7 separate regions of the Homo sapiens genome follow, and regions 1, 2, 4, 5, 6 and 7 are each linked to region 3. Evidence: fine-mapped expression QTL. A gene starts in region 3. Each other region holds a variant in brackets. All regions are shown on one strand. Distances are between the middles of the regions.

Evidence for each region. PIP is the estimated chance that this variant, and not a neighbour inherited with it, causes the effect.
Region 1: its variant is fine-mapped to the expression of KANK1 in whole blood (INTERVAL, PIP above 0.99).
Region 2: its variant is fine-mapped to the expression of KANK1 in whole blood (TOPMed, PIP above 0.99).
Region 4: its variant is fine-mapped to the expression of KANK1 in whole blood (TOPMed, PIP above 0.99).
Region 5: its variant is fine-mapped to the expression of KANK1 in whole blood (TOPMed, PIP above 0.99).
Region 6: its variant is fine-mapped to the expression of KANK1 in whole blood (TOPMed, PIP above 0.99).
Region 7: its variant is fine-mapped to the expression of KANK1 in whole blood (TOPMed, PIP above 0.99).

The regions. Positions count from the first base shown.
Region 1 is chr9:633,571-637,648 of GRCh38, reverse strand. All of the region lies in intron 1 of KANK1 (KN motif and ankyrin repeat domains 1), which reads right to left. Among named protein-coding and RNA genes, the nearest start is that of KANK1-AS1, 50 kb to the left of the region's middle. The variant G/AG (reference allele first, on the strand shown) is at 1,955.
Region 2 is chr9:401,869-405,868 of GRCh38, reverse strand. DOCK8 (dedicator of cytokinesis 8) reads right to left here. Exons shown (of 48, transcript NM_203447.4): 27 at 796-951. Among named protein-coding and RNA genes, the nearest start is that of DOCK8-AS2, 66 kb to the left of the region's middle. The variant T/C (reference allele first, on the strand shown) is at 2,204.
Region 3 is chr9:503,119-507,196 of GRCh38, reverse strand. KANK1 (KN motif and ankyrin repeat domains 1) reads right to left here and starts at 2,502. Exons shown (of 12, transcript NM_015158.5): 1 at 2,443-2,502. It overlaps LOC105375947 (translation initiation factor IF-2-like), which reads left to right and starts at 1,644. Exons shown (of 4, transcript XM_047424276.1): 1 at 1,644-1,937; 2 at 2,028-2,258; 3 at 2,376-3,500. The coding sequence starts at 1,644. The coding sequence ends at 3,197. RefSeq lists a silencer at 2,377-2,866.
Region 4 is chr9:575,238-579,315 of GRCh38, reverse strand. All of the region lies in intron 1 of KANK1 (KN motif and ankyrin repeat domains 1), which reads right to left. Among named protein-coding and RNA genes, the nearest start is that of KANK1, 73 kb to the right of the region's middle. RefSeq lists an enhancer at 4,046-4,078. The variant C/G (reference allele first, on the strand shown) is at 1,554.
Region 5 is chr9:656,744-660,821 of GRCh38, reverse strand. The region is part of intron 1 of KANK1 (KN motif and ankyrin repeat domains 1); the gene reads right to left. It also overlaps the pseudogene EIF1P1. Among named protein-coding and RNA genes, the nearest start is that of KANK1-AS1, 27 kb to the left of the region's middle. The variant G/T (reference allele first, on the strand shown) is at 2,359.
Region 6 is chr9:694,397-698,474 of GRCh38, reverse strand. The region is part of intron 2 of KANK1 (KN motif and ankyrin repeat domains 1); the gene reads right to left. Among named protein-coding and RNA genes, the nearest start is that of KANK1-AS1, 11 kb to the right of the region's middle. The variant G/TG (reference allele first, on the strand shown) is at 2,411.
Region 7 is chr9:593,241-597,318 of GRCh38, reverse strand. The region is part of intron 1 of KANK1 (KN motif and ankyrin repeat domains 1); the gene reads right to left. Among named protein-coding and RNA genes, the nearest start is that of KANK1-AS1, 90 kb to the left of the region's middle. The variant T/C (reference allele first, on the strand shown) is at 2,512.

The DNA of each region.
Region 1 (4,078 bases), 130 kb before region 3:
CCCATAGGACAGTGGTTCTCAAGTGTGGTCCCCAGATAAAGCATTAGCATCATCTGGGAACTTAACAGAAATACAAATTCTCAGGCTTCACCCCAGACTTGGTGACTTAGATATCCCTGAAGGTAAGTCCCAGCAATACGTACTTGAGTTAAGTACCCCAAGTGATTGTGATGCATGCTAAAATTTATGAAACTTTGCTGCAAGAAACACTACTTATGACATCAGCTATCAGTCATCATTAGTCACAATGAAATGAATGTTGAACCATACAAAATGGGCTATACAAGTGCCACCCTACCCTCCATTTTCTAAACAAAGTACTGTCACAGATGATGAAAGGCCAGAGAAAAAATGAACATTCAACAAATGCTGGAACAAAAGCTTTCACATCATTATTGTGAATAGATAATGAGACTACTTGGTAGTGTTTGAAGGCAACAGAAGACCTGGGAATAGCAAACTTGAGAAAGAATAGGGTTGAGAGAAGGACAACTCTTCCAATTACCTAGGAGAGGCTCTGCTGATACAGCAGAAATTAAGGAGTTGTTGGAGGAGTGGAATAAAGTAGAAACTGTCAAAAAATGGAGAGAAGGGGCACATAACTGGATGAAATCAATAAAGTACTAGATAAAATATTCCTGAAAGGTATAAACAAAGTTTTGAATAGGGGACTACAGAAGGACTGGCAAAGTCTAAAGTGGCTTGGTTTAAAAACAGTCTCTGAGGGAAAGGTTGGCTCTCTGGGCCTAAAGGAAGGGTTTCTGTTTTGTTTATGTTTTTATTTTGAGACGGAGTCTCGCGCTGTCGCCTGGCTGGAGTCCAATGGCAATCTCGGCTCACTGCAACCTCCACCTCCCGGGTTCATGCGATTCTCCTGCCTCAGCCTCCTGAGTAGCTGGGATTACAAGCACACACCACCATATCTGGCTAATTTTTTGTATTTTTAGTAGATATGGGGTTTCATTATGTTGGCCAGACTGGTCTCGAACTCCTGACCTCGTGATCCGCCTGCCTTGGCCTCCCAAAGTGTTGGGATTACAGGTGTGAGCCACCGCACCCAGCCAGGAAGGTTGTTTAAAGGTGTACAGGACAGAATGCCCAGCAAGTTATGAAGTGGACAACGTTTCGGACTCTGTTGATGGGAACTGACTGAGCCTCCATGATCTCTTTAATATTGTCCTGAATGCTGTGGAACAGAAGAGAAATGAGATGTTTACAATCCAGGCAGGAAAAAGATAAAAGGGAAGGTGGATATTTAGCCATCAAACACAAAAGAAACCAGGACATACCCTGCATGATCAGCAGTGCTAATATGAGAAGCAGTAATATATGGCAGCAGTCTGGATAAGAGCTCTGAAAAGTTTGAAATTATTCTGATAATTCTCAGCCAGGAGAGTTCTGCATATAAAGATCTAAGAGCAGAGCTCTCAACCTGGCCGCCACTAGAATCCCTGAGAACTTTTACAAAAACACCCTAGGCCCTAACCCAGGCCAACTGAAACTGAATCTTTAATTGATACTTGGATAGGCATATTGTTTGAAAGCTCCTCCAATAATTCTGATGTACAACCATTTATTTGTCTGAGAATATCAGAAAAACAGTAAAACTATGAAAATCTAAAGGCTATATGTACCACGCAGAAACTGAGTTTGTGCCTCATTAAGAAGGAATAAAGCCAGGCACGGTGGCTCACACCTGTAATCCCAGCACTTTGGGAGGCTGATGCAGGTGGATCACCTGAGGCCAGGAGTTCAAGACCAGTCTGACCAATAAAGTGAAACCTGTCTCTACTAAAGTGGTGTGCACCTGTACCGCCAGCTACTCGGGAGGCTGAGACAGGAGAATCACCTGAACCCGGGAAGCAGAGGTTGCAGTGAGCTGAGATCGTGCCACTGCACTCCAGCCTGGGCAACAGAGTAAGACTCCGTCTCAAAAAAAAAAAAAAAAAAAAAA[G/AG]AATAAAAAGGAATGTGGGTAAATGGATGAAGGGACATTAATAAATTGTGAATGCCACATTAACTTTTTCTTATTCTACTCATATAGAATTCTTACTATTCTAATAATAAAAAGGGAACACTATTATTCCATTTTGAAGACTAGCTCCAGTCTCAAGGGGCTGATATGACTAGGATGTAAGAGTACTTCCATCTGTGCGTGGTATTAGTCTTAGCATTTTGGGGAAAAGGTTTGCACAAATAAAGTCAGGGTCTGTGGTTCTCTACGAAGCACATGAAGGAATAGAGAGCAGCGCAGGCATGCCCCAAAGGACCTCAGGGTCCAGCTAGAGAGATATGACCTTCACACAGGTGGCAAAGGGGTAGAACAGGGAGTGCGCAAGGAAAGTTCCATGGAGCAAAGCGAACTCGGGTATAGGCCTGGGGGGCTGGGTACCTAAAATCTAGAGGGGCAGAGAGCAGGTTTGGTGGTAGGCAGGCACAGACTTTTTAGGGTCACCATGAGGTCAGGATGGAAGAGGGACATACAAAGGGAGAAAAGGAAGCCCTGTAGTCCTGGTGGTTGACTCTCCACCTGTTCCCCCATGCTGGTTACCATAATAACGGCATTCCCTTTACCTGTGATTGGTTTGTAAAGGACCATGTGACTCATTTTTGGTCAGTGAAATGTAAGATGTTCTCTAGGGTGCGTCTGGAAATGTTTCCTTACTCCTACAAGAGCCACAAGATGCCCTGTCTAGATGTGATGCCTGGCACTTCTGTAGCCATTTTGCCAAGAGGCAGAGCAAGTCTCAGGATGTACCAGTGCATAGTGGATGGCAGAGTGAAGTGACAATAAGAACCTGGGCCCCTAATGATATCAGTGGGCCACTAAATCTGAAAGTCCTTTTGCAAAAATGATGACATTGAGAGAAATCTAGCATGGTTCAACTCCATCTTGCTTCTGGCCTCACAGGCTGGTTCATTCCTGGGCATGGGCTAAGATAACCACGGGAGAAATTTAGTTTGTAATTTAACTTTGAAACAAGGATGATAACAGTCCCTCCCTGAAACTCATTCCCTTCCTTGTTCAGGTGCTGAAACTGCCTTTGTAAGACTAATAAAGGCCACAAGACTAGAATAATGGGAGGGGCCTGAATTCTGCTAACATGTAAGCATACTTTCTATAATCTCTTACTGCTCAGAAGTCAGGTGGCCAGAGGTTGCAAGGTTTGTGACTTCCCCAATTGCTCCTATAGATAACATCACTACTATAGAACCTAAGATTAGTCTTTTGAGATGCTTGTCAGACTTTTGCATTCAGGCAACCGAGTGACCCCACCGGGAGCCAGGACTCATAACTCAACCAAGGAAGTCCAGAGATGGACTCAGTGCAGGTGAGGTGGCACAGGATTAGACCATTTTGCACATCCCTATGATTTCATCCTCAACCAATCAGCAGCACCCATTCCCTAAGTCCTCCGCTCACCAAACTATCCTTGAAGAGCCCTAACTCTCTGAGCCTTTGGGGAGATTGATTTGAATAATAACTCCATTTTCCACATTGCTGGCCTAGCATTCATTAAACTCTTTCTTTACTGCAATATCACAGTCTCAGTGAATTGGCTTTGTGTGTGCAATTGGGCAATTACAAATTAATTAACCCCAGAAGTTCATTTCTGAACTTATGAAAAAGATAAACCTTTCTTACCATGTAAGGCAATTTGTTTCAAGGTTTTCTTGGATTTTGACTTGCATCTATTTATGGCTCAGTGCAGTGGCTCATGCCTATAATCCCAGCACTGTGGGAGGCTGAGGCCAGAGGATCACTTGAAGCTAGGAGTTGGGCCCAGCCTGGGCAACATAAGGAGACCCTGTCCCTACTAAAAATAAAAACTTAGCCAGGTGTGGTGGCATGTGCTTGTAATCTCAGCTACTTGGGAGGCTAAGGCAGGAACACCCTTTGAGTCTAGGAGTTCAGGGCTGCAATGAGCTATGAACATGCCACTGCACACTAGCCTGGGTGACAAAGCGAGACCCTGTCTCAAACATTAATAAATAAAACATATTTAAACAGTAAGCCTGGAAAGATGAGTCAGAATGAATTATTGAGAGCTCATATGCCAGGTTCAGGAATCTGGATACA
Region 2 (4,000 bases), 100 kb after region 3:
TTGTGAGTCAGATCTTTCCCTGTTCACAGTAAGATGGTCATGTAGCTAATATCTGGATCATGCCATATGGCATATATGGCTAAGATTTTTTTTTCAATTAGTAAGACAAGCCTTCACTTTTGTACTAGTATCAAGGAATATGCAACAGAAATATAACCTAATAATGAGAAATTTTGCCTGATGCTCTGAGCTACTGATGTGTTCCCTATAAATGGAATGTGACTATCAAACAGCATGTTCTTAAAGTTATTCCAGAGTAACATTTCAAAAAATGTATGAGGTGGGGTGGGGTTTCCATGTTAAATCATTTGGGGAATCACTGCTTATCATGCACACCTCCTCCCATTTCCTCTTCTGCTTCTCGTGCATTTGCAATTGACATGAACAAGTTAAAACCTCTTAGAGGGCCTGCTGCAAAGAAACCTGGTGAATACATGGTTTCCAAAACTTATTTACTTTGGAATCCTCTATTTGCATAATATAACAATTGGCTAATGTCAGACAAAGGAAGATTTGAGACTTTTCTATGAGTTTCTAAATTTCATAGGGCTTATTGGATTCTTGGCTTTACTTAACCTGATCAGGGAGCCTTGAGCCTGGGGAGAAACCAATTACTTAGATTGTTAATTCTTAGCTAGTGGTGTAACTTCAGGGTAGCATACTTGATCTGGTTTGAATTGTTTGATTTTTTGTCAAATTAATAAGACTAACCTTTATAGGAAATACATGATTAAACTGAGCTAGTTAAATGAAATAGCTTGAATAATTCTTTTAGTTAAATAATTCTTTTATTACCTGGGAAGATATGGAAGGACAAGGAGATGTTGGAGCAGTATCAGCATTCATAAAAAAAAGGTTCAGATTGAGGTAATGCTCATGGCTACAGAGGATTCTCAGGAACTCTAGCCTCATGGAAATGAGCGTTGGAAGGTTACTGAGCTTGGCTGACAGCTGGGAAGAAAAATGAAAAGAGGAATGAAACATTTATTACAAGGTAAGTGGAGTTGAGGTTGGCAGACACAAAAATATCCTTTCTCTCCAGGTTAAGGCAATCAATTTAATAAAAACTAATGGGATAGTGCAACAGATGGTAAATTCTGCATTACAGAGAGGTCTAATAAATTTTCATTCATTACTGTTCCCCTTAGTGATTCTAGCCTAGTAGCTGTCCAGAATGAGGATTCTTATCCCGATTTCCACTTTATCAAATCTTTAATACCATGGGAAGCCTGTGCTGAAAATCTTGAGGTACATCTTCACCGTAACATAATTAATTTTACAAAAACTCTACTATGTTCGAGAAACTAAATGAAAGGAGTTGACCTCATATGAGCCTGTATGAAACTAATAGAATATGACTAGATGACTTTTATACTACAAGTGTTCTCTCGTAGTTTCTAATTAAAGGCCCCATTGGAAAGTTGTAGAACCAGTTCCCTAGAGAAAGGCATCAAACTGTTTAGCAAAGTACATAGTACCTGCAAAAAACTCAAGGAGCTTGTCCCAGACTGAGAGAGGAGGAAATGGAGAAGAAAGAGAAAGAAAGCTAGAAGAGTTTTTAGGAAAAATCTTCCTTTAAAAAATAAACCATGAAGCAAGCAATGAAAAGCAGAAAAAGGTGACTGTCTGGAAGAGACCCCTTGCTTCCCCCAGGCAAGCTGAACAACTGAAAGACCCAGACTCAGAGGCAGCTCCTCTAAAGGCAAAATAGGGGAAGGAAGGGGCGCTGATGCACCTTGAGCTCCTCAATATTTCATCATTATCACCCCCCACCCCAGCACAGAAATATGAAGCATCATCCTTGTGATAGACATGCCTCCTCTTCACTCACTTCAAGAGTAGTTTGTTTTTTAAACTATATATATATATATATACACATATATATATATACACATATATATATATATACATATATATATATACACATATATATATACACATATATATATATGTATATATATATATATATATATATAGAGAGAGAGAGAGAGAGAGAGAGAGAGAGAGAGATACAGAGTCTTGCTCTGTTGAACTGGAGTGCAGTGGCATGATCTCGGCTCACTGCAACCTTCATCTCCCAGGTTCAAGCGATTCTCTTGCCTCAGCCTCCCGAGTAGCTGGGATTACAGGTGCACATCAACATGCCCAGCTAATTTTTTGTATTTTTAGTAGAGATGGGGTTTAACCATATTGGCCAAGCTGG[T/C]CTCGAACTCCTGGCCTCAGGTGATCCTCCCGCCTTGGCCTCCCAAAGTGCTGGGATTACAGACTAAACAATATAATTTAAATGAACACATATTTTCAGCCATTTTACAAGAAGCCAATGTGTTGTGGGACATATTGCCTACAGAATTAATTCATAGTTAGACATCCACTTAAAATAAGTAAATGCCATTATATATTATTTTAAAACCAAAACATATGACTTCTATGTAAGCACAGTTACCAGATCCCATAACCTTTCGATGTGCACTCCTGGCTGACTTTGGACCAGTGGAGCCACCAGCACATTGAAGGGATTAGAACTTGGTCATGTGCCTGTCACTTAGGTTACTCATTAACAGGTGTCGGGTCAAGCCGGCTATCGGAACTTGAACCCACAACACATTGGCACTTAAAAGAAGGCCCCACTATGGGTATCTTTCATAGGTCCCTTGAGACATCATTCAAGACAGACATTTCAGGCTGGGTGTGGTGGCTCACACCTGTAATCCCAGCACTTCGGGAGGCAGAGGCAGGCAGATCACTTGAGGCCAGAGTTCAAGACCAGTCTGGCCAACATGGTGAAACCCTGTCTCTACTAAAAATGCAAAAATTAGCGGGGAGTGGTGCCACACACCTGTAATCCCAGCTACTCGGGAGGGTGAGGAAGGAGAATCGCTTGAACCTGTGAGGCGGAGTTTGCAGTGAGCCAAAATTGTGCCACTGCACTCTGGCCTGGGCAACAGAGTAAGACTCCATCTCAAAAGAAAAAAAATAGACATTTCAAAAACAATTTGAGTGATGTTTTGAAAAGAGGAGTAAGGTGCATTCCAAAAACTTCCTTCCCAAAGGTCAAGACCCACAATGCCCCTACCCAAGGGATGGGTGTTTGCTTAGTGGCACATTGTAAGTGACAGACAGTAATTGAGGAAATGGATTTGTCTATTTTTAGTGACTATTAAAAAAGACTAAGGTTATATCCATTGCCACAAAATCTTTAGATGGCAGAAAACATAATAGGTTATGCAAAATGATAAAGTCAGACGACTTTGTAAGAATACAACTTGCTTAAGGTATGAAGTTCATCCTGTATCTAGAGAGCTGGGATCAATGAATTAAATCACCACGAATGGGGGTCAGTGACCTTCTGAGGCCTGAGTGCCACTAATGGTGCTAAGTAACATCCGTGGATGTCACTGGCAGACACAGACCACAGAATCAGTGGATAAATCTAATCCAGCCTAGTTTTTTTGCAGATGAGGAAATGAATGCCTCAAAGGCTGATGCTCCCAATCACAGAAGTAATTAATGGTGTCCCAGGAATCAGCATGCAGGCTTCTTGACTCCTGGTCTAGGGATCTTTGGCATTTGAGTCAAGGAGAGAAACAAAAAAAGAAATGGTAACTAAAAGAAAAGGGAAGAATTTAAGGAGAAAGATAGTGAGCAAGAGAAAAGAAAGGAAAGAGAAAGAGAAAATAAAAACATGAGTTTTGCAGGGAAGGCAGATATCTACCTTGGGTTGCCTTATTTCCCTGTCGGGAATGAAGATAGCCTGCATGTGAGTAGCTAAGCCTGGGTCTGCAGTGGTGATCTAGGGTATCTTTCATACACTCAACTTAAAGTTTTGAAAACAGACTAACCTGGAATCCTAAATACTGAAGAGGGAGGGCAAGGAGGAGTGAAGTGTCCCTCTGCCATTCTATTCTGGTGGGTCCTGGGACAGAAGATCCGCTGCAGGGCAGGGGTCAGGGTGCATGGGATGGGGATGCTTGGGGACTTCTGATGTTTCCTTAGGATTCTT
Region 3 (4,078 bases):
TTTTTTTGTAGAGACGGAGTCTCGCTATGTCAATGTTCTAAATTACCAAAAAAAAAAAAAAAAGATGGCATAAGCTGTCACCCATGCAACAGGCCTAAAACTTCCCGAAACACTTGAAAACAAGTTGACTTTTCTTATTGAAGGGTGAGTGAGAAGTGTAGTGGATGTTGCATAATTTGGATAGCTTCAACTCTCCTTACTAAAAATGATTTTTAAAACATGCACACATTATCCAACAAAAAGCCCGAGTGAAGTGTCCAACTTTTCACAGACCCACTCTGCTCTTTCAGAATCTGCTCACCCTATAGTTATTCCATCTCAACAGTCCTCAGCTCCCACAAGCACTGCCCCTTTCGGCCATTATCCCATTCCTCTTCCCAGTTCCTTGCACTGCCCCCAACTAGATCCTTTTCCATCCTCCTCCTCCCACTTGGGATAAAAAGTTAATGTATGCACACATTAACTCAGAACTATTTGTGAACTGATACTCATGAAATGAAACTAGTCTTGAATGTATCAATTCCAGTGGCCATTTGCCTGTGGTTTTTTGGTTTCTTTCTTTGGGGCCAGTTTGGATATTTTAAAAAATTACTTTTAAGCCTAGTCTTTTTTCCTTCTAACATTCCCTGCCGAGCGCGCACGCACACGCACACACACACACACACACACCCAGAACTCACTTTCGCTGAGGCAGAACCTCGACTAGAGTGATTTATGGACTAGGCAAGTCTAGAGCCCAGAAAGCATCCCTGTGCCCTAAGGGGATAAAATGTATTCCCAACTTGTGGGTCTCTACAGGAGGCAATTATTCCTCTACTGGCAGCTTCTCTTCCATCCTTATTCATTTTAACCTCCCCATAGGACAGCCAATACTTAATTTTTCTTCCATTGCTTCAGCAGCACCTTTCCCCAAACCTAGTAACAGAAAAAGGATCAAAGTTAATCACCTCTCAGTTTTCTCACTCAGTCTCTATCTTAGAAAAACTTCCTAAGTAGCTGCCTTAAAATGAGGGAGAAGGGCTGGGAGATGGAAGAATGACTGCTAATCGGTATAGGGGTTCTTTTTGGGGGCAACGAAATGGAATCAGATGGTAGTGATGATTTCATAACTTTACGGATATATTAAAAACCACTGAATTTTGACCTTAGAAGAGTAAATTTATATGTTTATTACACTTCAATTTTTTTTAAATAAAACGTGCTCAACATTTTAGTAGAGAAAGTTGGATGAAAGGAGAAACTGGCAGATGAACAGCTACTTAGCTGTTAACGCCACCTAAAAATGAACTTGAATAAACTCAGGAATTCAATATAAGCAAACAGACCCTCATTTCCATTCAGCTCCAGAGGTGGGGGGCAATGACGGTGAGGAAAGGAACTGCACGATTACACATCTGGATGATTAAGCTTCCTTATTAGCCTCGGGTATCAGGGTCTAATAGAATCCACTATTTAATAAGATGGGCTGACCCTCCGCAGAGGCCACGTGCGGAAAGCGAGCGCTGGCGGACGCCATAAATTGTTAACGCCAACTCGCCCAAGGCCTTCACTAGGTCACGCTCGTGCAGCACGGCTCGTGCTGACCCGCAAGAGCCACCAAGAACAGTTGCCTCTGAAAGTTCCACGGGACCCGGGTGAAGGAGATGAACGGTCAAGGAGCCGTGGCTGCCGCGAGCGCCACTGCGTGTTGCCCAAAGCGGCACAGAAAACGCAACATTCGGGGACCAGCCCGCTTCAGGGCCCCTACACCTTCCCTCGACCTGGAACCGCGGGACCTCGGAAACCCACGCTGCCCGCGCCGGGTTGGGCCGCCCCAGAGGCCGCAGCGCCCACGCCCCTCCCCCGCCTCCCCGCCCTCCAGCCCCGGCCGAAGCCACCTCGGAGTTGGCGGAGGGCGACCCGAGGCCACCTGCCCCTCTGGGGCCGAGGATAAAGGGGTCTTGACCGCCACTCCCTCCCGCGAAGGGCAACATCCAACTCCACGGAGAGCCGCTTCAGAGAGGGTCCCCCGTTCCGCCCCGGGCTAGGGAAGGGCCCAGAGGCATCCGAGGGACAGAGCGCCGGGCCGGGGTAGCCAGGCGCCCGCACCCTCCCGCCGGCCGGCCCGGCCCGAACTTTCTCGCTGCTCCGTGCCCGGCGCGCCTCTCCCTCCTCCAGACCGGCCGAGCGCCGCCGCTGCAGAGCGCGCCAAACTCCGACGGCCGCGGGGCCGACGCCACCTCTCGGACCCCCCCCCAGGACCGCCCCGAGGCCGCCGGGTTCACCCGCACGAGCGGGAGCCCGCGGGGGCTGCCCTCCGCCACCGCCACGGCCGCCGCGCAACCCCGGCGCGCGCCAAGTCGGCTCCGCGCGGGGCCAGCCCGAGGCAGGGGTAGGGGCCTCGCGCTCCGGGACAACCTCGCCGCGGCACGGGGCGCGGCACGGCCCCGCCGCGTCACTCACCTTCGGCCGCTCCTCCCAACCTGCCGGCCGCTCGCTCGCTCCGCCGCGGACCCGGAGCTCGGGGAAGGGCGGGGCGCAGGGGGCGGAGTCGGCCCCGGCTGGCAAGCGCCAGAATTAAAGCCCGAACCGCACGGCCGCCGCCGGGGCGGGGAAGCCGGGGCGGACCAGCAAGCCTCTCACCCGCGGTGGGCGACAGCTGTGGCTGCGCCCCGGAGCGGCGCGTGAGAAGAACGGCGCGGGCCGGCGAAGCCCCGGCTGCTCCCTCCGCCCAGAGGACGCCCGGCTCCCCGCGGGGGCGCTCTTTGTACCGCGGAGCCGGCCGCGGGCGGCCCTCAGTGCGCCTGCGCGCCGCTGCAACTCCACCAGGCCCGCGGGGCACCTTCGTGCACCTTCGTCGCCGCGCCTGGCCCGCGGGCCTCGCCGCGGCGAGAACTAAGCAGAAGAACTTCCTCCACCGCGGTTCGCTCCTTCTGCCAACCCGTATTTACCACGTCCATCCTCGCACACACACCCGCAAGGGGAGAAGAAATCCAGCCCCCGTGAGACGGTGCGGTGCTCCCATCTCCGGCTGGGGCGGGGGTTCTGGCAACGAGGCTGGCCTGCTCGACGTCCTCCCCCAGCGCCTCTGTACCTCCTCTCCCTCCCCGGGTGAGGGGGACCGGAGCGTGCAGAGCTCTGTTTCCTGCAGGTGCCTCGTCAGCACGGTCGCCCCGGCGGCCAGAAACCTCCCGCCTCCAAGGGCACCTCCCTTGTGACCTCCGTGCATTCGCCCTGGCTCGGCTGCAGGACAGAGTCCTCGGCGGAAAGGGGAGGATGCGTGTTCAGAAGGTTGCAGGTCTCTGGGGACTCCACAGAAGACCCAACGCCTGCCTCGGGGGCTCAGGATTGAACTGGCTTCCTAGTTCAGTCCCAAATACTCGATTTGGAGCAATCCAGTAGGTCCATGAGAAATTAGTAGGGATTGAGAAGCTGTGACTTCAGTCTTTTTCAAATTGAAGGTGGCTTGAACAAACAGAAGAGGAGCTTGGGAACTGAAGGGACGACTTTATAAAAACCAGGTATTACTCAAAAAACAATGTTAGCTCTGCAGTCAACTGATTTTCTTAAGGGAGAGAGTCCTCCCCTCACCCCCAAGCTCTCTAGCACCGCACACATCCAGCAGGGCGTTACACACGCTCAGTCTTTTTTGTGAGTGTGCAAGTGAAGAGCCATCAAACTTCACAAGGCGACATGCTTGCCTCTGGGGAGAAGACGCTGCTTTTCCACAGTTCACAGCGAAGCACACCTGCAAATTCCTGAACTTGATGGCTCCTGACTGTTTAGGGAATAGGCAAAGGGCAGCCGGAAGATATGTGAAGGCAGGAAAGCTCATTTTGAATCTCAGCGCCTTTGCCAGCTCACTGGGTGGCAGTAAGCAAACTCTTTCCTCCTCCTGGGCCTTGCTTTTTCGTCTGTAGAGTAGGGCATTTGGATGCAGTAGATATTTTCTAAAATCCCCCACCACCACCACCCCGCCCCAAATGTCTACTCTTCTATGAAAAGGAGAATTGTTTGCATGGTGATAAGGGATGAGATATCAGAGGCAGGAAGACTCCTGCATTTTAAAAGTGCTCGTCGGCCAGGCGCAGTGGCTCAG
Region 4 (4,078 bases), 72 kb before region 3:
TAGAAGCCAAAGATTCCCAGTTGAATACCATCCTTTCCCCATTACCAAGCTAATACCCAGCTGTGCTACGGGAGCCCACACTGGGGGCAGAGGGAAGCAGACCCAGGGTGGGTGGGTCGGGGAAGGCTACGTGGAGGGCACCAGCCCTCAACTGAATACCTCCCCAGTTACTAGACCTCCCATCCCTGCAGCTTCAGTGTGCCTTCCCTGCCAAACTGTGCCTCACTGAACCCGATTTTTCTTGGCTTGCATGCGGAATACTCTGCTTCAGCTGGCATTTTTTATGTCTATGTGTTCAAACATGCATATAGTCAATTTTTCCTATTTTCAGCTGCAGACATTTATTAAGTCAAGATATAACAGTCAAATTCCTAGAGTTATGAGAGTGCTCTGCCCTCCATCCCCTCCCCATGGATAAGCTCGTCATCTTCGAGATGGGATTTTTAGCATAGCTTGAGCCTACATTTCAAATAAAAGTTAAATATTATACAGAGGTGGGAGAAAATGATTATGTAGAGTAATATTAGTTTTCTGACAGAACTGGTAGGATTTGGAATAATTTCTCCCATAAACATCCAAGTACAATTTCTTGAGGGTAAAGAAGAGTCCAACTTAGTAATGGTTATTTTATTTTCAATTGTCATGCTTGATTTTTTCCTAAAACTTGCACTGATGCTTTAACAGTGCATAAATCTAGCTGTTTACATATTTATTTTTTAAAATCAACATTGAGATATACTCCTAAACTATGATGATGTTCCAGGGGAAAACAATTAGAATAGATATATTTAGTTTTTAAGATTTTTGTATAGAGGACTGCACCCCCTCCCTGCCGCCCAACAAAAAAAAAAGGCTTTTTCTTTCAGGATTAATAAGAAATGAAACATTTAATTGTCTGTGGTCCATGTCAACAATGTTGCTAATATATTTCATTTTTTACCCTCCATGGCTTAGCAAAGGCAAACACACACACACACACACACACAGTTGAAAAATAAAATAAAGAGACTCAAGAATCCAAATCATACTTCCTTACTTGGTATCTAGATATATAAAGCAAGAAGAATGTTTCCTACTTTGTTTGAAGCAAATAAAACAAAAGGTGAATGCTTTTACTGATTTATTTCTGGGGTGATCCAACGAGAAAGCAATTTTCTGAGGAGTCCTCATTTGGCTCAGTTCTGCCCTTTAAACCATAAGCCCCAGTATGGCCAGTTCAGTATCCTCTGGTGTTCTTCTCTTCTCTCTCAGTTCTTGTGGAGGAAGTGATCACATCTAGGGGTGACCTGGTTACAAGGTGAAAGGAGGCCTCCTAGCTGGGCTCTGAGTGAGGGAATGATGTGTGCACAGGTAATGATCAACAACTAGCACTCTTTGGGGCTTTGCAGGATGCCATTGTGAGCTTCAGGGTGCTCCTATTCCCAAAGTTTACAGGTGAAACAGCTTTACTTTCCCAGAAAATTATAATAAAAAGTACAATTTTAAAATCCTACTTCTCATGCGTAAAGCCAGTGGTTCTCAAATGCTAGCATAAATCAAAATCACCTGCAAGA[C/G]TTGTTGAAACATAAATTCCTGGGCCCTACCCTCAGAATTTCTGATTCAAGAGGTTTGGGGTGGAACTTGAGAATGTGTACTTCTACCAAGTTTCCAAGTGATGCTGTTTCTGGTCAAGGGACATTTTGAGAATAACTGCCTTAAACAAAGAAGTCTGAAGGGTGGGCACAAGCTATCTGGGAGATGATACTGAGAGGTGAAGCCGGCTGAGCTTCTGGGTCGGGTGCGGACTTGGAGAACTTTTCTGTCTAGTTAAAGGATTGTAAACACACCAATTAGCACTCTGTGTCTAGCTAAAGGTTTGTAAGCGCGCCAATCAGCACTCTGTAAAAACGCACCAATCAGCGCTCTGTGTCTAAAGGTTTGTAAACACACCAGTCAGCACTCTGTGTCTAGCTAAAGGTTTGTAAATGCACCAATCAGCACTCTGTAATAACACACCAATCAGCACTCTGTAAAATGGATCAATCAGCTCTCTGTAAAATGGGCCAATCAGCACTCTGTAAAATGGACCAATCAGCAGGACGTGGGCGGGGCCAAATAAGGGAATAAAATCTGGCCACCAGAGCCAGCAGAGGCAACCCGCTTGGGTTCCCTTCCATGCTGTGGAAGCTTTGTTCTTTCGCTCTTCACAATAAATCTTGCTGCTGCTCAGTCTTTGGGTCTGCACTACCTTCATGACCTGTAACACTGCAAAGGTCTGCAGATTCACTCCTCAAGTCAGCGAGGCCATGAACCCACTGGAAGGAAGAAACTAAGGACTCATCTGAACATCTGAAGGAACAAACTCCGGACACACCATCTTTAAGAACTGTAACACTCACCGTGAGGGTCTATGGCTTCATTCTTGAAGTCAGTGAGACCAAGAAACCACCTGAAGGAACCAATTCCGGACACAATACAAGCTTTCTGTTAATAGTATAGAAATCTATTTAACAGTTATTTATCATGCACCAGGTACATGGTACGTACAGGGAATGTCATGGTTTGCAAAAAAAAAACAAGGTCCCTCCTCTTCCTCTCCCACAAACCTGAAATAAAATTACTGTTCCAGGAAGAAGCACCAAGTTCAAGATGAAGCTTTCTGTATCTCCAACACAAACTGCATGCCCCATGAGGAAATGTACAGTCCCCTAAATGAAACAATGTCAAGTCTCCGTGATTGCCAGTGAAAGAATCGAAGCAAACGTCTGAGCCTGCTCTCAAGACTGAGATTACAACTAGAAAATGATGAAGTACCCAAAACATATAAGGAGCACACTATGACAAGCATATGATTGGCATGAGGGCTAAATGCAAGGGAACTGTGGGAAAGATAGGCACAGTGCCTAGCAGAGCAAATATTGGTTCCTCTTCTGCTTTCTTACCTATCTGTATATTAAAAGGGAGGCCAGTAAGGTTGTCTATGCTGGGCCTTCAAGGAGGCTGCCAGCTGCTTCTTACCTTGTATACACTCAGGACCCAAGGGTATGTTATCTCAGCAGCCCTGAGCATTTAAACTCATAAAATTATAAAAGGATGGTATGAAGCTAGTGGTACTGAAACTTTATCATGAATCAGAAGTATGTGGAGGGCTTTGTAAAAACACAGATTCCTAGACTCCCACCTTCAGAGTAAGCAGTAGGTCTGATAGGGCCTAAAAATTTAAAATTTCTAATAAGTTCCCAGATGATGTGAATGATGCTGGTCCATAGACCATACTTTGGGAATCATTCATTAAACTTATTGTTTTTTGTTTTGAGATGCAGTTGCACTCTGTTGCCTACGCTGGAGTCCAGTGGCACAATCTCAGCTCACTGTAACCTCCACATACTGGGTTCAAGCGATCTTCCTGCCTCAGCCTCTCAAGTGGCTGGGATTATAGGCATACACCACTACATCTGACTAATTTTTGTATTTTTAATAGAGACAGGATTTCACCATGTTGACCAGGCTGGTCTTGAACTCCTGACCTCAAGTGATCGGGCCCGCCTTGGCCTCCCAAAGTGCTGGGATTACAGGCATGAGCCACTGTGCCCGGCCAAGCTTATTGCTTAAGCCATTCTTTCCTTGCTATTAACTAGAACACTATCTCTGTAATTAATTTTTTTTGAGACAGGGTCTTGCTCTGTTGCCCAGGCTGGAGTGCAGTGACATGATCATGGCTAACTGCAGCCTCAACCTCCCAGGCTCAAGCAATCCTCCCACCTCAGTCTCCTGAGCAGCTGGAACACAGGTGTGCATCACCATTCCTGGCTTTTTTTTTTTTTTTTTCCCTGTAGAGACAGGGTCTTGCTATGTTGCCCAAGCTGGTCTCAAACTCCTGGGCTCAAATGATCCTCCCAGCTCAGTCTCCCAAAGTGCTGGAATTACAGGCAAGAGCCACTGTGCCTGGCCTCTGTAATCTATTATATAAAACAGAAGTCTCATGAAGTACTAAGAATAGTGGCTTTTGTCACCAACTGCGTGACTGACCTCAGGCAAATACTGTACTAACTTTCTCTGTGCTTTAACTTTACAGATATAAGTGGAGCTTATCTCCAAA
Region 5 (4,078 bases), 150 kb before region 3:
TGCACCTGGTCAGGTTATAGACACCAGGGGATCTTTCTTTGACCACCAAAGGCTCCCTTCCAGTGGTAGAGTTGCTGTTGCTGCCTTACCCCATCCTCTCCTCTTAGATTCACCGAGGATTGTTCGGGTGGTGACAGTCTCTTAGGGCAGGGAACTCTGCAGAGGGAGAGCGGAGGAGCTTCTGGCCAGACGTAGTTGTCTATGATCTTAGGGGTCTAGGTGTGGCTGAAACATGACAGTATTGCTTTGTTTCAGACTTGACACTGCCAGGCGCCTACTGCTTGACCTCTGTTTAAATGAGGGACTTCAAGACTAGACAGCATGGCTCTTTCAAGTTTACTGCATGAAGGAATTACACTAGGTCAAGTTAAAAGCAGACCACAAATGGTTACATTATACAAAGCTGTGAGGTTTTTAAACTTGTGACAAGGGACAGAAAGGAAATTCTACTCATTGCAAGGAAAACCTCATTCAAGCTTCAGCGAGCCACAGCAGTTAAAACCCATGAACATTTAGCTGGTTGTCCTTAGCCATTCCAATCTCTAAGAGGAACTGGCACATGTTCTTGTGCTGGTCACCCTGTAGCTGAATGACCTCCATATTCTGGATGCTCAATTACAGTATCATTGCAGGCAAATTTCTTTTTAAATGCCTTCATTGGTTTCTTTTTATCATAATCATCAGCAGTCCCTTGGACAGTAGTAAGGGTCTTCCTGCCATTTCTCTGTTGGATGAATTCTTATATGGATATAATCCTCAGTGCCAGCAGGACAGGTATCACCCTTACTTGTATCAGCAAAGGGGTGGAAAGAGTGGAGGTTCTGGACTGTGGACATACGATTGTTTTTCCTCAGTGGAAATGGCTGCAAAAGCGGGCGGTGGCGGGAGAAGGGGGAGATGAGTCCTTGGCAGTGGCGGCTCAGTGACTCGGGCCTCTTCAGATTCTTAACGTTAAAACACTAGTGCTTGATACGGTTTGGATTTGTGTCCCCACCCAAATCTTATGAGTTATAATCCTCCGTGCTGGAAGAGGGGCCTGGTGGGAAGTGATTAGATCATGGGGGCGGACTTCCCCCGAGAACTGGTTGTTTGAAAGTGCATAGCATTACCTTCTTCCCTCTTTTTCTCCTGCTCCCACCACATAGGACGTGCCACCTTCCCCTTCGCCATCCACCATGACTGTAAGTTTCCTGACGCTTCCCAGCCATGCTTCTTTACAGCCTGTGGAACTGTGAGTCGATTAAGCCTTTTTTCTTTATAAATTACCCAGTCTCAGGTAGTTCTTCATAGCAGTACAAGAACAGACTAATACAGTTCTCAAAGTGGGTTCCCAGAACAGCAGCATCAGCATTATTTTCTGGGAACTTATTAGAAATCCAAATTTTGGGGCCCATCCCAGACCTACTGAAGCAGGAACTCTGGGTTTGGGGCCCTGCAATCTGCATTTTGATAACCCGCTAGGTGACCCTGAGGTAGGCCAAAAGTTCTCAAAATCCCTATCTTCAAAGATGGGTTAACTGGGAAAAAAATTATGCCCTAAGGCTCCAAGAGCCAAGAATATCCTCTAATTTTAAGAAAATGATACCTAGGGATTTAGAAAACATCCCCCAGGAAGCCTAACTTTGTTTCACTCATTTATTCAAAAATATTGACTGAGAACTCAGCATGTAATAGGCACAGTGCTGGGCACTACAGTGGTGAACAAAATAAACTCAGTTCTTGCCTTTTTGAGGCTTATAGGCACGAACTATATGTGCACAAACAAAAAAAGTTATAAACGTATTATGCTAAATGCTACGAAGGAGAAAAAAACAGGTGTTGAGTGAGAATAACAGAGGTACCCTTCCTTAGGACTGAAGTTGAGGGTATGCAGATGTATAGGAATGGGTGGTCCTTAAGGGTCTTTCCACGGAAACAACATTGAAACTAAGACCTGAAGGATAAGTAGGAGTTAACTAGGGGAAAGGTGGAAGGTAAAAATGGTCCCAGGAACAGCATACAGCCCAGAAATAGACCCACACAGATGTGCCTATGCGATTTTTGACAAAGGCATTTCAGAAAAGAAAAACTCTTTCAGAAAAGGAAGGAAAGTCTTTTCAACAAACAGTGCTACAGCAATCTGGTATCTATAGTCAAAATAATGAATCTTCTTAACCGTCTGTCTTATACAAAAGTTAATTCCAAATGAATCTTAAATCTAAAATTAAAAAAAAAACTATAAAACTTAAGAAAACCTAGAAGATCTTTAAGACCTAGGGCTTAGAGAGGTCTAGACATAATACCAAAAGTAAGAGCCATAGAAATAAAAATTGACAATGCGGTCTTCATCAAAATTACAATCTTTTTTTTTCTTTAAAA[G/T]GTCTGGAGGCTCGGGGCCAGAAAGAGCTCCATATATTTCAGCTACTGAGTTTTTAAGAGAGGGAAAGAGTAGGTTGGGCTGAAGTGAGAGGTAAGCAGAGGCTAGGTTATGAGATTTGCTTAGTCCTGTTGGTCATAGTAGGAAGACTAGGTTTTCTTCTAAGTTAAAAGTCATTGATGGGTTTAAGCGGATGAGTAAAATAAAATAAATGATCTTATTTTTAAGTGTTTTGTTTATGCATAGGCTTCTTACTATCTTTAAAGAGAGGCAGCTCTGGGCTTTGTTTATCATCACGGGGAAAGGACACTGGACATTCCAGGAATAGTTTATTTAGATTTCACATAGAGGATTTCACATTGAAGATATAACCAACCCTTCCATTTAAAAAATACATGTATTTTTTCCACTGTTTAAAGCAGAATGGAACTGGGTATGGTGGTTCATGCCTGTAGTCCCAGTACTTGTGAGGCTGAGACAGGAGTTCGAGGCTGTAGTGAGCTATGATTGCACCTGTGAAGAGCCACTGCATTCCAGCCTGGGCAATTTAGGGAGAGCCTATACCACCCCCACACCACCACCACCAAGAAAACAGAAAGGCTCATGCCAAATGGAAATTTCCCATATTTTCTTGTGTTTTATTAAGAACATAAAAGTTCCTAACTTAAGCTTTACAGAGGTCAACTGTCTGACCTAGAAGGGGCTTTACAATTTGCTGCCTGATAAAAGCTCTCACAATGTTAAATTTATGTTACCAACGCAGCATACGCACCTCACCTGAAAATGGTTATGGGAAAAGCTGTAACCAGAGACTGAATTTGGAGTTTAAAAAGGCAGAACCAAATCAAAACCACAGTATCACCTCATACTCATTAGGATGGCCACTATTAAAAAAAAACAAGAACAAACAACAACAAAAAAACAAAGCATCGGTAGCATGTAGAGAAACTGGAACCCTACATTGGTGAGAGTTGTTGGTGAAACTGTAAAATGGTGCAGCTGCTACAGAAAACAGTATAGAGGTTCCTCAAAAAAATAAGAAATAGAACTACCATGAGATTCAAGAACCCTACTTCTGGGTATATGCCCAAAAGAACTAAAAACAGGAACTCGAAGAGACATTTGCATCCCCATGTTCACTACAGAATTATTCACAATGACCAACATGCAGAAGCAACCTAAAAGTCCATTAACAGATGAATGCCTAAGGAAAATGTGGTATATGCATACAATGGACTATTATCTAGCCTACAAAAAAGGAAATTCTATCACATGCTACAACATGAATAGAATGGAAACTTGAAGACACTATGCTAAGTGAAATAAGCCAATCACAAAAAGCCAAATTTCTATGACACATACATGTAATTAAAGTCATAGAAACAGAAAGTAGAAAGGTTGGTGCCAGCGGCTGGCACAGGGGGAAACAGAGTTGTTTGATGAGCACAGCATTTTAGTCATGTGAAATGGAAAAGTTCTAGAGATCTGTCATGGCATTGTGCATACAGTTAACAATAATGAAGTGTACACTTAAACATTCAGAGGGCAAATCTATGCTATGTGTTTTTCACCACAATAAAAAAAAAGGAAAAAAGTAGAAGTAGCATTTACGGTGCTCCAGTCACACTAAAGGTCAAGCTGCCTTATGTTGCTATCCTTTAGTGGAAATAAACCTCACTTAAGCTTTTCCCTTTTTAATACAGGAGACTCAGAACATTCTCT
Region 6 (4,078 bases), 190 kb before region 3:
TTTAAACCAATGGATGACTCACCGCAGAGAAAAGTGATGGGATTCCTTTTCTGAAGGTCACTGAAGTATGAGAAATCTAACCTGGGAAGGACGGATATGGCATGAGTGAGGGCAGGAAGAAACAGGAGACAACATTTTAGGGAATCCAGGTTCTGATTTAGCATGTTGAGATGCAGAACACAGACTCGCTCTGTGTTTGAAACTCTAGGATGGGAAGAGCAAGGACTGAAAATGCCTGTGAGGCTAAGACAACACCGACCCTGACAGCCAACAAGTGTCTCTGGAGGCAGGAGAGAAAGGCGGGCAGCACGCTGTTTCCAGCTTTGTGTACCTATCCACCCGCATCTGACCAGGGCCTGAATTGGCCAACAGGGAAAGCTAAAGGTAGACGATAGGCCTGGGGAACTTAAACAATATACTCTGAAAACGCAAAACTTCCACCCACCAGATGGTCTCTGACAAGCTGAATTTCAGGTTGGCTTGCCTCTAGGGTCCCGAGTGTTACTGTTGGCCTGCCTACCACAGATCTTGTTGCAGGTAACCCATACTGTCTGAGATAAATACATATCTAGAACTCAGATAACACCCTCCGCCTACCAGTTATTAGTCTCAATCGTCAGCACACATCAGATTGGCTATTTAATGCCAGTGTCAAGGGTATATTTGATTCAAACTCTTTTGAACCCCCACTAGCCAAATCTAGGATAATTTGAGCATGAAAATAATATGATTAATGATAGTAACAAGTTACAATCCAGAGAATAGGTATCTACTTGTGAGTCCATCATGCTATAATAAATATGTAGGAATACCAACTAATATATACAAGGAATTATGTCAACAGAAAATCACCATGGACCAATTATTAGAACAGTGGCGGATTCAGGTAGGAATCACTAGCTAAGGCTAGTGGGTAGAGATTTCCTACTAAAGACTAAGATACTGATGTCGTCTCAGAATATCTCACCAGAAAATATTCCTGGAAACGTCTACAACTTCTCAATTACTATCCTTGCAAAGTCATGTGCCAGGAGCTCCATTTTAAAGAATAAAGCCTAAAAGCTCTTTTCTGTGGCATGAAATGTCAATCATAAAAAAAAATGGTGACTCTATGATGAGAAAGCTGACAAATAACCACCTCGACCAGGTGATCAAAGTTGACATCATGTATCTGCATGGGGAAGAGCAGAGCATCACTTTTGCACTGTCCTGCCAAGAAGGCATGGCCTGGACCCTGCCTGAAACACATTCTACAGAATGTCAGGCCTCTCTTTTTAAAACCATCATGGCCATGAAAAAAAGGTAAAAACGAGAACTTTTCAGATGGAAGGAGGCCAAAAAGACATGACAACTGCATTTCTACACACAGACACACACACACACACACACACACACACAGATGGAACAAATACGGTAAAATGTTAACCACTGGGAAATCTGAGTCTGGGTGAGGAAGACATGAGAGCTCTTTTTATGTACGATTAAAATTATTTAAAAATAAATTTTATTTCTGTCTTTCCTTTCTTCATCTGTGCATCAATGTCCTTAGGGTGCACGAGTGCAGTCAGCCTGCCACTAGGGAGCACAGCCCAGACTCTGCTGTTACTCATACTGCAAATATGCAGCCTGTTTTCAGGGGCAGATGGCTTTGCTTTCCTGTATTACATATTATTTGAGAAATTTTACATTTGTTTCAGGTATTCCTGGAAACGTCTACAACTTCTCAATCACTATCCTTGCAAAGTGATGTGCCAGGAGCTCCACTTTAAAGAAGAAAGCCTAAAAGCTCTTTTCTGTGGCACGAAATGTCAACAATTTAGCCCCAATCCAGCACCTCCCAGGTTCCTCCCCACCCCAAACCTCAACGTACTGAGAAATTTTCAAGCTTATCTATCTTTGCTCATTCTATCCCCTCTACCCAGCACACCCTTCCCCACACTCTCCCATCTGTCAAAATCAGCTGCATTGTCCTAAAGGGCCCAACCCAGATACCTCATTTTTGTAAAGCCCTACTTACCCTCAACTGCTCTGTCCTGGGAATAACTGGTCCCCTTCTTCCCTCTTGTTTCCTAAGTCACTTTGCCTATATACGCGGAACTGTGTTACAGTTAGCAAGCACATGCCTGTGTTTCTCTACCAGACTCTAAGTGTCTAGGGGAGGCAGAAGTCAAGCAGTTTTTTTTTTTTTTTTGAGACGGAGTCTCGCTCTGTCACCCAGGCTGGAGTGCAGTGGCGTGATCTCGGCTCCCTGCAAACTCCGCCTCCCGGGTTCACGCCATTCTCCTGCCTCAGCCTCCCGAGTAGCTGGGACTACAGGCGCCCGCCACCACGCCCGGCTAATTTTTTGTATTTTTAGTAGAGACGGCGTTTCACCATGTTAGCCAGGATGGTCTCGATCTCCTGGCCTCGT[G/TG]AGCCGGGCTTCCCAAAGTGCTGGGATTACAGGCATGAGCCACCGCGCCTGGCCCTCAAGCAGTATTTATGTTTGTATTCCTCAGTACTTGGCGCTTGGTACATGGCCCTCTTAGTATCTGCTGAAGTGTAAAGCCCCACATCTAGGCATCTACTGATGAATAAGTATAACAGAGGAAGAGATGTAGTGATTTGAAGCAGGCACTCTGGGGCCAGACTGCCTGGGTTTGAATCCTGGCTCTGCTGCTTTGCAGCTGTCGGCAAATTAGACTATATTCCAATTGTTTGAGAAAATAATAGTACCTGCATCAGTGTGTTGTCACTTAGAACAATGGGTGGGTTCTATTGTCACTACTAGTGGTACTGGATCACCCTCTGTTGTCTGGAGAAGAACACAACCCTGGCCCCCCAGAGAGGATCCAGAACCCTTCCTCCTCTATACCTTGCCCCCCCCCCCACGAAGTCAGGGTTTAAGGTATTTGTGATACTTGTTCAAGACCAAGTAAGTCTGCTAAAATCTTGAGTTCTACATTGGTTTCTTCTTCTTAAGAGTGTATGAAGGAGATGCCAGCAGGGAGCTGTAGGGGATGTGTGTGTGCACACGCACTGCTTGGGCAGAGTGGTATGTACCAGTTAGATAAGGGGGAGTCCCAGTCCAGCACAGGAAGGAAATAAAAGCAAAAGCAGACAAACACCCCCCAACTTTTAAAGCATATTATGGCCAGGTTAAAATATCTCCATCTCACAACATGAGGGCAAAGGTGAGTGCCGATTATTCTGAACACTCATTCTGCAGCTCTCCCGAAGTCCTCAGGGCACAGTGCTCTCTAACACACTGTGCAAAGACGGTGCTTTAAGCCACCCAGAGCACCTCCAGGGTAGTCGTCCTGAATGGCCTGCCTAGGTTGGGGGAAGGTATACTATTGTTTTCATAAAACAAGAACAGGAACTATGATCACTTCCTAGTTCATGCACGAGCCATGGGCAAGAGAGCCCTGGAATCATACAATGCAGTGATGTGATTCATACCCTTAAAATGAGGGGGGTCAGTGGAACTCTGATTTCCAAAGTTGCTTCCAGGCTATGAGTAACTGTCGACTAGACTTGATACAAAATTTCTTAACATGGCATGAAGAAAAATGAATCACGGCAGGTGTCAGACCAGATGAGCTCAGGCAGACAGAGCCTGCAGTCTTCCCCTCTGCACGTCCCACTCAGCAGCACCTTTCCAGCTGCATCCTAACTGGCATGACCTAACAATCCCCAGTGCAGTGTCCCTCCTGGGTATTGCCAATTCTACTCTGGGCATGGGTTAAGAGGCCAGAAGCCAGGCTGCACGTAAGAGTGAGGGGAAGACAGCGGAAAGGGTTACTATTCTCAGTAGTGGAACGGCCTGTCTTAATAAAGGGCACATTGTGCTAGGGAGGCATGTGATGGTAACAGGGGCCTTGCGGTTTATACAGTGGCCCTCTTCTCCAGTGTTCAGTGCCAACTACAAGATGCAGCAACTCTTTACCCCAAATCTGTCTCAAAACAGCCAAAATGCCATGGGCTCCTAAGTGCAACCCCAACTATGCTGCTCTCTAATGTCCACTGTCTCATTTTAAAAGTTGTTGCTGAAATACAGCCCAAATCAATCATGCATGCACAGAAGAGAATGAGCTTGGAC
Region 7 (4,078 bases), 90 kb before region 3:
AGAAATGGTTTGGCCCTGTGGAAAACAGTTTTGCAAAAAGGTTACACAGACTTGCCATATAACCCAGCAATTACACCTCTAAGTATGAACCTAAAAGAACTGAAAACAGGGACTCAAGTACTTACACACCCATGTTCATAGCAGCCTTATTCATAAGAATTAAAAGGTGGGGAAAAAATCAAAAATCTATCAACAGATGAATGGATAAACAAATTATGATATATCCGTACCATGGACTATTCAGCCATAAAATGGCTAAGACATTACAACATGGATGAATATACTAAGTGAAAGAAGCCAGACACAAAAGGTCACATATTGTATGAGAACATTTATTTTACATGTGGTATCTAGAATTGTAAATTCATAGAGACTGAAAGCAGATTAATGATTGTCAGGGATGAGAGAGAGGAGAGAATAGTGTGTTACTGATTACTGGGTACGGGGTTTTCTTTTGTAGTGACAAAAATGTTTTGGAACTAGAGAGAGGTGGCAGCTACACAATATTATGAATGTACTAAATACATCTGAATTGTCAATTATTAAACTGCCTATTGTTATATTATGTGAATTTCATCTCATTAAAAATAAATAAAAGTTAAAAAAAATGTATAGGGAAGACCAAAACACCAATGGGGAACTGGTAAAGTAATGATGGTGGACTTCATTACTTTACCATGACATAACGAGACAGTGGTACCAGTGTAAACGGGCATCTTCTGAATCCCGTTGCCTCTCTGTGAAACACTCTAAGAGCTATTGCCAGGGGAAAAGGAAACCTACTCAAAACCAGGGGTGGTAAATAATCACTGGCTCCGTGACAGCAAAATGATCCATTGCCAGAAACAAAAGCCTAGTTCAGCTTAGCATAGGGGCTCAGAGGACAGCCAGCCTTGGTTGCCTTTAGTCTTTTCTCTACCCGAACTTAACCTACAGTGATGTACATTAAAAGAAGTTCTACACCCTCCCTTACAGGTGAGGAAACTAAACCATGGCTGCTTCTAGAGCCCATACACAGGGATGTGGGTAGGAACTCAAAAAATATTTACTAATTTGGCATACAAGTTGAACGTCCTTAATCCAAAAATCTGAAATAGAAATGCTCCAAAATCCAACACTTTTTGAATGCTGACATGACACCAAAAGTGGAAATTTCACACCTGACCTCATGTGACAGGTTACAGCCAAAATGCGGTCAAAACTTTATTTCATGCACAAAATTATTAAAAATATTGTATAAAGTTACCTTCAGTCTTTGTATATAAGGTGTATATGAAACATAAACGAACTTGTTATTTAGACTTGTGTCTCATCCCCAAGGAATTTCATTATGTATATGCAAATATTCCCAAATTCAAAAAAGTCCAAAGTCCGAAATACTTCTAGTCCCAAGCGTTTGGGATAGGGGATGCTCAAACTGTAAAAGCTATTTGTTATCATTTGTCAAACTGTGGAAATTAATAATTCTTCTATCTATCATCATAAATCTTCTCATGAGGCTGGGCACAGTGGCTCATGCCTATAATCCCAGCACTTTGGGAGGTCCATGCAGGAGGATCACCTGAGTCCAGGAGTTTGAGACCAACCTGGGCAACAAAGCAAGACTTCACCTCTACAAAAAATAAATTAGCCAGATGTGGTGGTGCATTCCTGCAGTCCCAGCTACTCAGGAGACTGAGGTGGGAGGACTGCTTGAGCCCAGGAATTTGAGGCTTCAGTAAGCAATGATCACGCCACTGCTCTCTAGCCTGGGCAACAGAGTGAGACACTGTCTCAAACAAAAGAAAAAAGAAAAAAGAAAAAAATTCTTATGTATAACTGTCCAAAAGCACACCCTATATCGCAGCAGGCTCATTTTGCAGGCTTTTCCTCGGGTTCTTGTTCTGATTGCAACGCTCAAGTTTGGAGCTGAAGTGCTCCTGCAATGGCATTAGGTCTCCCCTTCAGAGTGCTTTCACAGCAAGAGAAATTCACACCAGAAAGAGCACTTTTCAGCCACTTTCTGGGCCATGTGAATAACTTTCAGTTAACCCTTCTCTCAACAGGTACCAATCACCACATTTTAAAAGTAGAGACAGGGTCTCACCATGTTGCCCCAACTGGTCTTGAACTCCTGGGCTCAAGCAATCTGCTGGCCTTAGCTTCCTGAGTAGCTGGGACTACAGTCATGTGCCACCATGCCGGGCCATCGTTGCATTTTAATTTATATTATTTGTTTTGGCTATTTCAATGTGATTATTAGGACAAAACAAGAAATTTAAATTAAAAGGCAACTTTTCTAAAAATTCTTTTTTTTCTTTTCGAATCTGCGTTCTGAATAAAAATTCTTAAAATCAAACTGTTTCTATAATAAGAAAAGATGACAAAGTATCTACATATCTTTGTTTAATTCCTCTGATTGTAATAAATAAGCCATTATCAATACACAGTGGCTGAATCAAAAGGATTTGTTTTATACATTAAAGGTTGAAAGAGGAGAGACAGGGAATCTGAACTCTCCAGATTTTTATA[T/C]TTGGTTTTAAAAGCCTTCTCCTCATTTAAAGTGTCATTATTAAAAATTATTAATTTTTTTAAATTCTAGAAACAACTGAAATCACGTTCAATATTTTTGAACCTTCAGACACATCTATAATTGTGGATCAGAGTTTAGGAAATCAAAAAAACACTCAGGGATTCTCCATTTCATTGTATCTTAAGACATTTTACAAAATATAAACAATCTCACACTTATTAACTATTTAAGACTTTAGAGTATTTCTGGCTCACTTTAGTCTCTGGCAGGGCTGGTTCCCATTTTGAAATGAGAACTCTATGTTAAGGTGGAGGATTTAGAGACTTACAAAGTCAAAAAGAAATCATAACTCCTACATTTTTAATCATCCATCCTTCTGGTATATGATTTGTCCCTAATTCTCACCAGAAAATGAAGAAAGTTTTGAAGAACGAGTTATTCTCAATGTAAATCTCCAGCCAGCCTCTGTCAATCATGTTGGCCTTTTCCCCCTAGTTAGCCTTTCTCCACCTCCTGCCTGAAAACTACACTACTATTTAATTGCTTTGTGACTTCACATTTTATTAAAGGCAGAAAAACATAAAGAGCTAAAACAAGGAGATAAGCCTATTGCCATAAATTGTCCCCTTAAGCAATGAAACCTGCCTCTCTAGTATAATAAGGTGGGTACTGTGAAAACCCCCAACAAGTGCACTTCTGCATAAGTCCACAGCCCCCATCACTTACAGCAGACCTTACAGTTCTCTCGAGCGCAGCACCATAGATCAGACCCCAGGGCAGTCAGCTGCATGCTTTCTAAAACCAGTGTGAAGGGCACAGCCCAGGGAGTCACTTTGCTCTCCACCCTCACCTACTCCAAATTTATCTTGTGTTCCCATGGCTGGGGGAGGGAAGCAGAAATAAGAGACAAGGTTACAAAAAATTTTATAAACTGATAGCACCCCACCTGCCATCCCATTCCCTAGAAGTCCAGTTACTTGTCATAACCCAGTGAACACATTTTAGCTAAGTGTTCATTTTCATAAATTTGGAAGAATTCACTTCTGTCCCTTTGGAGTCTCCATTTCTTCCTCTGTCGTGGGATGGAAATCATCATGATCAGATGATACCATGTTTCTGAAGGTGCTCAAGCCCTGGTCCTCTGTAAGATTACATCCAACGATTTACACAAACAAATCAGGTCTTCGTGTTTAAAGCCCTGTGAAAACATCAATGGGTAACTTCTCTAAGTTACTCTGGTTTTTTTGCCACCAGCCAAAAAACAAAGGCTTCAGGTGTTTTTAAATCCCACTGAGGTGTATAACAAAGTTTATGACATTAGTCAAAAAAAAAAATGCAAGTATATGGGGGGGGGGAATGTATAAAGATCTAATATATCCACTAAGCATAAAAAATGTCTGAAAGTATATACAATAAACTCAGCAGTGGTTATATTAGGAATAGGATCAAAAAGTGGGATACAAGAATCCTTTTTTTGTCTGTATGTTTTATTGTTTGAATATGTGAGAATGGGCACATCTGACTTTTGTCATTAATTTTAATTTTCAGAGTTAAAATAAGGAAAAG